2 linked regions of the Homo sapiens genome follow. The protein of the gene in region 1 purifies or fractionates together with the protein of each later gene. This does not show direct contact. Each region holds a gene or a part of one and is shown on either strand. Other genes may lie near its edges.

Evidence for each region. The genes of interacting proteins can lie anywhere in the genome.
Region 2: the proteins of CHST6 (region 1) and GLB1L2 purify together in Homo sapiens (affinity purification with mass spectrometry; 2 studies listed by BioGRID and IntAct, with this or other methods). This does not show direct contact.

The regions. Positions count from the first base shown.
Region 1 is NC_000016.10:75,485,417-75,489,062, forward strand, and holds part of CHST6 (carbohydrate sulfotransferase 6), read right to left. Parts: intron 1-3,646. UniProt on the Homo sapiens protein: Sulfotransferase that utilizes 3'-phospho-5'-adenylyl sulfate (PAPS) as sulfonate donor to catalyze the transfer of sulfate to position 6 of non-reducing N-acetylglucosamine (GlcNAc) residues of keratan.
Region 2 is NC_000011.10:134,338,351-134,341,996, forward strand, and holds part of GLB1L2 (beta-galactosidase-1-like protein 2 isoform b precursor), read left to right. Parts: intron 1-3,646.

The DNA of each region.
Region 1 (3,646 bases):
ATCATTCTACTGCTCACCAGCTTGGGCAACAGAGTGTGACCCTCTTTCTTAAAAAAAATCAAAAACCTAAAACCAGAGCAAAACACTCCAGCTCACAGCTGAAGCTCACAGCTCACAGCTGAAGTACTGAGAGTACATTTCCTTTCTTGTTTTTTCTTGTTTCCCTTAGTTTTCCTTGGGGCTAATTGCATTAGATATTAGAAACGTTGAAAGAAAAATTTAAAAGATGTGAAAAGTAGAACAAAAAACATAAATGACAGATAAAGGTTGGAAAATAGAGAAGAGATAAGATCAGCAAAAGATTCATCCAGGAAAGCCAGTGCTCAGGATCCCGATCCTGGCAGAGCTGACAATCAAGTTGGGGACACTGAAGACACATCTGGCTATGTGACGGTCAAGGGACCTGATGGTGTCCCAGTGGATGGCCTGGACATCCAGCCGCGGGAGGGTCATGCTGGTCCTGGCTGCATCCTTATCTCCTGGATTCCAGCAAAGTCCCCACCTGGCCTCCCTTCAGTCCATCTTGTACAGTTGCCCCCAGAGGTGCCTACACCACACATCTGATCCTGTCATTCTCCTTTTCAGTAACCTTCAGCTTTCCAGCCTTATCTCCCATATCCCAGGCTTCAGATGGCCGGGAATAATCAGTGTTCATCAAACAAGCTCCATCTCTCCCAACTCCCTCACCCATGCTATGAGTGCGCAGCCCTGACTCCCACTGGGAGGCATTTCAGCCTCGCCTGCAGCCACCTCCTCTGTGCCTGTCAAGGCATGCCCCACTCTGCCCTGCATTGTACTTTGCTTTCCCTTCTTGCCTGTGAGCAACCCGGAACTTTGGATTGTGGTTTTTCGCAAGCGAACACCTGTTCTCCGGTGACTAGTGTGAGGATCAGCACTGCACAGGTGCACTGGACATGCTTGGTTCTGTCCACTCAGTACCCGTTTTTCCTTCTGATAACAGTCTCTAGGCTTTTCCCTGGGGAATCACCCTCACCCACTCAAAAGTGCATGTGGCTCAGATGGGGCTGATCCACCACTCCCGGCTCCTAAGGGTCATGTGTCCCAAGACAGACCCACCTCTATATTCCACACACTGACCCTGCCCCCCCAGCCCACACAGAACTATTGGCCTAGGAATGGGACATCTGCTCAACTGCAATTCTGGAGTTTTGTTGATCACAAGGGAAGAGGAAACTGCCTAGGTTTAAAATCAACAACAGAAGAGAACTCAGCAGAGAAAGTTCACAGGCAAGCTGACAGCACCATCTAAGCATTTGGATCCAGTTGTGCAAGGCTTACCCATGGACCCCTCAGCTGAGGGAAGCATTCACTTTCTGCTTAAGTCCTTGGGAGATGAGTTTCTGTCACTTACACCCAAGAGTGGTGATTAGATAGTGACAGTGAAACCCTTGGTGGGGTGAGGTGGGAAGGGTGCAGGGGCAGAGCTTCTGGGGGCTGGCCCTGCGTTGTTTCTCTCTGACAGTGCTAATTACATGGGTGTGTTCAGTTTGTGAAAGTTCACCAAGCTGTACTTTCATTATATGTACTCTGAAGAATGGCATACTTCAATAAAAAGTAAAGAATCCTGACTGAAGAAGATAGTAAGAGTCATGTCAAGGAATGTCCCAAACAACAAATGAGTAGAGGACATGAACAAATACTTGCCATTGCACTCAGATACTCTGTGGTCCACATCCAGAGGGAGGAATTCCCCAGTAGCCCACATGGCTTTCTGCCGAGCACCTTAAAGTCACAGGATCTTCTAAACATCCCTTACCATTTCTTGGCCTGGCCTGAGAGACCTAGGAAGGAGCTATGGTTCTGCCTGATTTGCAAATAGGAAAAGCAAGACATTGACCAAGGATGGTTTTCCATAGCAGGGTTGAGCTGGAGCCCAGGAGTCCTGGCTCTCTGGGCAGCACTCACTTCCAGCCAAGCTCTGCCTACCCTCGACACAGCAGCTCCAGGCCGGGAGTGGTGGCTCACACCTGTAATACCAGCATTTTGGGAGGCTGAGGCAGGTGGCTCACCTGAGGTCAGGAGTTTGGGACAAGCCTGACCAACACGGTGAAACCCCATCTCTACTAAAAATACAAAAATTTGGCCAGGCGTGGTGGCTCACGCCTGTAATCATAGCACTTGGGAGGCTGAGTAGGGTGGATCACAAGGTCAAGAGATCGACATCTTCTTGGCTAACACAGTGAAACCCTGTCTCTACTAAAAATACAAAAAATTAGCCGGGCGTGGTGGCGGGCACCTGTAGTCCCAGCTACTCAGGAGGCTGAGGTGGGAGAATGGCGTGAATCTGGGAGGCAGAGCTTGCAGTGAGCTGAGATCGTGCCACTGCACTCCAGCCTGGGTGACAGACAGAGTGAGACTCCGTCCCCCCTAAAAAAAAAAAAAAAAAAAAAAAGAGAAAAAATACAAAAATTAGCCAGGTGTGGTGGTGGGCACCTGTAATCCCAGCTACTCGGGAGGCGGAGTCAGGAGAATCGCTGGAACCCAGGAGGCAGAGGTTGCAGTGAGCTCAGATCATGCCACTGCACTCTAGCCTGGCAACAGAGTAACACTCCACCTCAAAAAACAAACAAACAAACAAAACCAAAACAACAACAAGACACAGCAGCTCTTCTTGTTACCAGCCTGTTCCAGCCCTGTTCATAGAATCTAAGGGAACAAAATGTAACACTAGGTATAGATCCCAGGTTTAGATTTCTCTGTTTAGAGTTGGCTGGAGGTCATCCCTGTTCGAGAATCCCAAAGCCACCTGGGCACGGTGGCTCATGTCTATAATCCCAGCACTTTGGGAGGCCGAGGCAGGTGGATCACCTGAGGTCAGGAGTTTGAGACCAGCCTGGCCAACATGGTGAAACCTCGTCTCTACTAAAAATACAAAAATTAGCCACCATGGTGGCAGGTGCCTATTTGTAACCCCAGCTACTCCAGAGGCTGAGGCAGGAGAATTGTTTGAGTCTGGGAGGTGGAGGTTGCAGTGAGCAGAGATCATGAGCCATTGCATTCCAGCCTGGGCAACAAGAGCAAAGCCCCGTCACAAGGAGAAAAAAAAAAAAAAAAGAATCCCAAAGGCTGGAAAAAACATACCCAATGAGGAGTCAGTGGCCTTGAGGCATCAAGAGCTACAACTGGGGCCAAACTGCTCTAGTGGAGCCCTGGGCATTTGGAAGGGGGAAGGCTAACAAGGAGCAAAAGAAAGAGGAAGAAAGAAGAGAGAAGAAAACAGAAAATGAGACAAAACATAAAGCAGGGAACATAAAACATAAAACAGGCCAGGTGCGGTGGCTCATGCCTGTAATCCCAGCACTTTGGGAGGCCAAGGTGGGTGGATCACATGAGGTCTGTAATGGGAGGCTGAGGCAGGAGAATCGCTTGAACCCGGGAGGTGGAGGTTGCAGTGAGCCTAGATCACGCCATTGCACTCCAGCCTGGGCAACAAGAGTGAAACTTCGTCTCAAAGAAAAACAAAACCAAAAACAAAACATAAAACATAAAGATGGAAGGTGAGTGTTCATGGGGGGCAGGAACAAGGAACCCCTGCAAACATCATCTATGAGGGTTTCCTACATGCCCAGTCTTTCCCATCCATTTTCTGATTTGATCCTCACAGCAACCCTATGACATGGACCTG
Region 2 (3,646 bases), on another chromosome or scaffold:
AGGAGATCCTTTCTGGTGGTGACAGGATCTGGCTCACCTCCCACCCAGCCGCCCTGCAAGATCCCCTCTGAAACTTGACAGCCAGTCCCATTCCCAGAAAGAGGTGGTGACCTTGCCACCTGCTCATCTGCCCTTTTCCATCCACTCACATCCGGGAGCACTTTTTACTACACCTGGAATCTCCTGCCTGCTGGGGCCTGCCCTGTACCCTTCATCCTCAGGACCCACCTCACCAGTCAAGGAAAAATTACTCCAGAGGGCTCCACCTCCCCCTGCTTCCTCACCACGGGGCACAGCAGAACTTGGTACCTATGTCCTCTGCTTCAGGTTTCCATTGCAACCAATTTTTGTGTCTGCAGCTTGCCCAGCCTTCAGCACGAATAGTGCATGCCCCTTTTCCACTTGCCAAAAGGGAACTGGTGAGGATGGGCTGTAGAGGTCTTGTTAGGTTGTGCGCGGCCCCATCAGAAGTCCTGATGTGCCTGCCTTCCTCCAGGAACCCCACCTTGGACCATGACCATGGCCACCCTCTCCATCCAGGTGGAGGAGCGGAGCCTGACTCTGAGCAGAGCAGACCTGGGCACTGAGCACTGAGTTCAGGGTTTGCTGTCCGGACTCTTCTAAGGTGGAAAAATCGCTTTGGATAAATGAAGCCGAGATACATAGGCAACAGGAATCCTAGCAGAAAGTGTTAACATAAGCTCCAGTTCAAAAGAAGGCAGGTGTTCCTGGTTTCATCAGATAAAGGTCCATCGTGGATGAACTGCTCCCCAAGAAAAGTGACAGAAACACGCTGGGCTTCCTTAGGATTTGGTTAGCTGCTTGGTATCAAGCCTAATTTAGGAGTAAAGTCTTGCTGACCTTTAAACCAACCAACTCCAACCACACTGTTGATATTTCCTTTATTTTATTATTACTGAGTTACTCAGGAAATTATGGGGTTATTCTCCGTCTTATGATTATTAGTATTAATGATCATTATCAGTGTTAATAGCCATTTACATGATGCTTCGTTGTTTATGAAGCTGTAACTCGCATGGTCTCATTTACTAGCAGTGAATTCCTTGGAGAAACCCAACACGTATCATCCTCATTTTCTTGGTGAATCCATCCCTTTTAATAAGGTATTGACAACTTCTCTAGTAACCTACCAGAAAATTCCCATGAAGAAACAGTTGAATTCACCAGAATTTGGAATTGGATAACAGCTAGATTGTTTTTTATTCTTGTTGTTTATTTCATTCCTCTTGCTATGCACTGAGAAGAACGTTTCATTCTAAAAATATAGAAAATGGTGTGTTATAAAGACACTAGCAAAGACAAGCTCTATCCAGGGAGGGAGTCTACGTAGTGTCCAAGGAGAAGACGCAGATTGGGCTTCTCGAGCTGTAACCTTGGGATTGGTTAGAATGCAGATTTTGATTCAGTAGGTCTCAAGTAAGGCTTAAGGTTTATGCATTTCTGACAAGCTGCGGATGAAGACCTGGAAATCTGGTTGGTGGATAGAAGTTGTTGAATTGGGATGCCTCTTTCCAGGTGTCTGCACTTTGAGTCAGGCGGCTGTGACCCTGAGGGAGTTCAGAGGTGTGGCTGTCTATAGACCACACCTGGAGAAGTCAGCCTAGAGGGAGGTTTCCTGATCCTTAGTCATCAACTAATCAAGGGGAGAGGTTAAAGGTGTTGGTTCCTAGCAGGGACTGTGTTGGAATGTCGGTCAGAGAGGCTTCTCCAACCCTGCCTACACCTCTGCATTTAGCAGGGTGGGGAGTGGAGGCTCTCGCACCCATAAGTAGATGTTAGGATAAGTAATGTGTGCTTTAATAAGAATTGGAGATTGTGCTTTTGAAGTTCTGGCTGGAGAATAAGGTTTGGTACCTGGTGGAATGATTGCTAAGTTGTATTGTCACTGTCTTTAAAAACAGTGATATTTTGTGTGTGTGTGCATGTGCATGTGTGTGTGTATTTTCACCACCAGGTTGTCAAAATGCCCCTGTTTTTAAGAAAATAATCTGTCCATCCAGTTCTTCCTCATTCTGGCCTGGGGTGAGCCCAGCATGTGCCTCTGAGGGAACCAGGGGGAGAACCTGTGTTGCGGCGGGCAGGTGAGTCTGGTGAGTACCTGAGGCAGGGAGGGCTGAGCAGGTGGCAGGGTGTGTGCTTTGGAGCAGGTGTGGCCTGAGCAGTTGTGAGCCTGTAGCCAAAGCAAAGCGCCTGGTGAGCAGAGCAGGGGGCACCAAAAGAAGGCCCGGACGGTGGCCCAGAGGGGCCGAGGCCTTGTCTTAGCACTCCAGGGCTTCATCTGCAAGGATGTGGGCCAGCAGAGTTTCTGGGAGAGGGCAGATCGCACATATTTTCAGCTTTGCAGGCCACGCAGTCTATCGCAAGTACTCAACTGCAAAAAGCCATTCGTAGATGGTGTGGCTGTGTGCCAATACAATGATTTATGAACACTGAAGTTCATATAATTTTTTATGTGTCCCAAAATATTATGCTTTTGATTTTTTTCCAACCACTTAAAAATGTGAAAGCTATCCTCAGCTTGCAGGCTGCACAAAGACAGATGGCAGGCTGGATTTGACCCGAGGCCCAAGTTGGCCCACCTCTGGCCTACAGGCTGTGTTGGTCTAATAGGATCTCAGTGTACAGAATCTTTCATTGTCAAATTTTAGAAATTGTCATAAGATGGCTTGGCACAAAGTCTAGCACATAAGCTATATACCACCATGGGGAGAATGGAGAAGTTGGGATTATTCCACATTAGGGACATAAAACCCACTTGTGGCTATTCTCTCTAAAGCTTTCTCTTTGGAGAAAAAAGTGTGGTGAATAGGTTCCCATAACTCTCTAATACGCAAACACATGCTACAATAAATTGATTTCAGATAGAGATAAGACCCTTCGACTCACAGCAGAGAGTGTTGCATTTCTCCGGGACCCTCACAGCAGCCTTTCTGAGCAGTTGGGAGAGGCATTAGACTCGTTTTATAGAGGAAGAAGCTCCTGCCCACAGAACTGGTGTCACTAACCCAAGGCGACAGTTCTACCAAGCTGGGGGCCAGGATTCACATCCGGATCTTCCTATTCCAGCTAGCGTTTTTGCTGTCACTGTCTCATACAGTCCTTTGGAAGAACTGTGTCCTAAAATGTCATTTGCAAGCCATTTACTAGAACATGGAAGTTTTCTCTTTAGAAAAAGAAAAATGTGGTGAACAGATTCCCAGGTTGCCCAAGATGAGATGACCCTTTCATCTGTAACACAGCAGAACCATAGTCCTGGAGCTTCGGTGTGAGTTCTAAGGCCCTGGGGCTGTGAGAAGTAGGAAGGAGTAGGTAAAAAAGCAAATTTCTTTGCCTGAGAGTGGCCCCAGACAAAATTCCCAAGAGGCTGGCGATGTCCGAGCTGTCTTCTGCCCTGTGGGCACCCTGCCCCCTCCCCGTCTCTGGCCATCTGGGCCCTCTCGCTTGTTCCCTCCCTCTGTGACACTCAGCTGAGGGGCGTCTTGTGCAGTGGGGCCCGGCTGGCCACCGCCTGCTAGTGTCAGGGCAGGAGCGAGCGCCGGTGGGGACGAAGGCACAGCCCACACCGGCTCCTGCCCCGGACTCAGCCACCCAGCACCGGCTCCTGCCCCGGACTCAGCCACGCCCT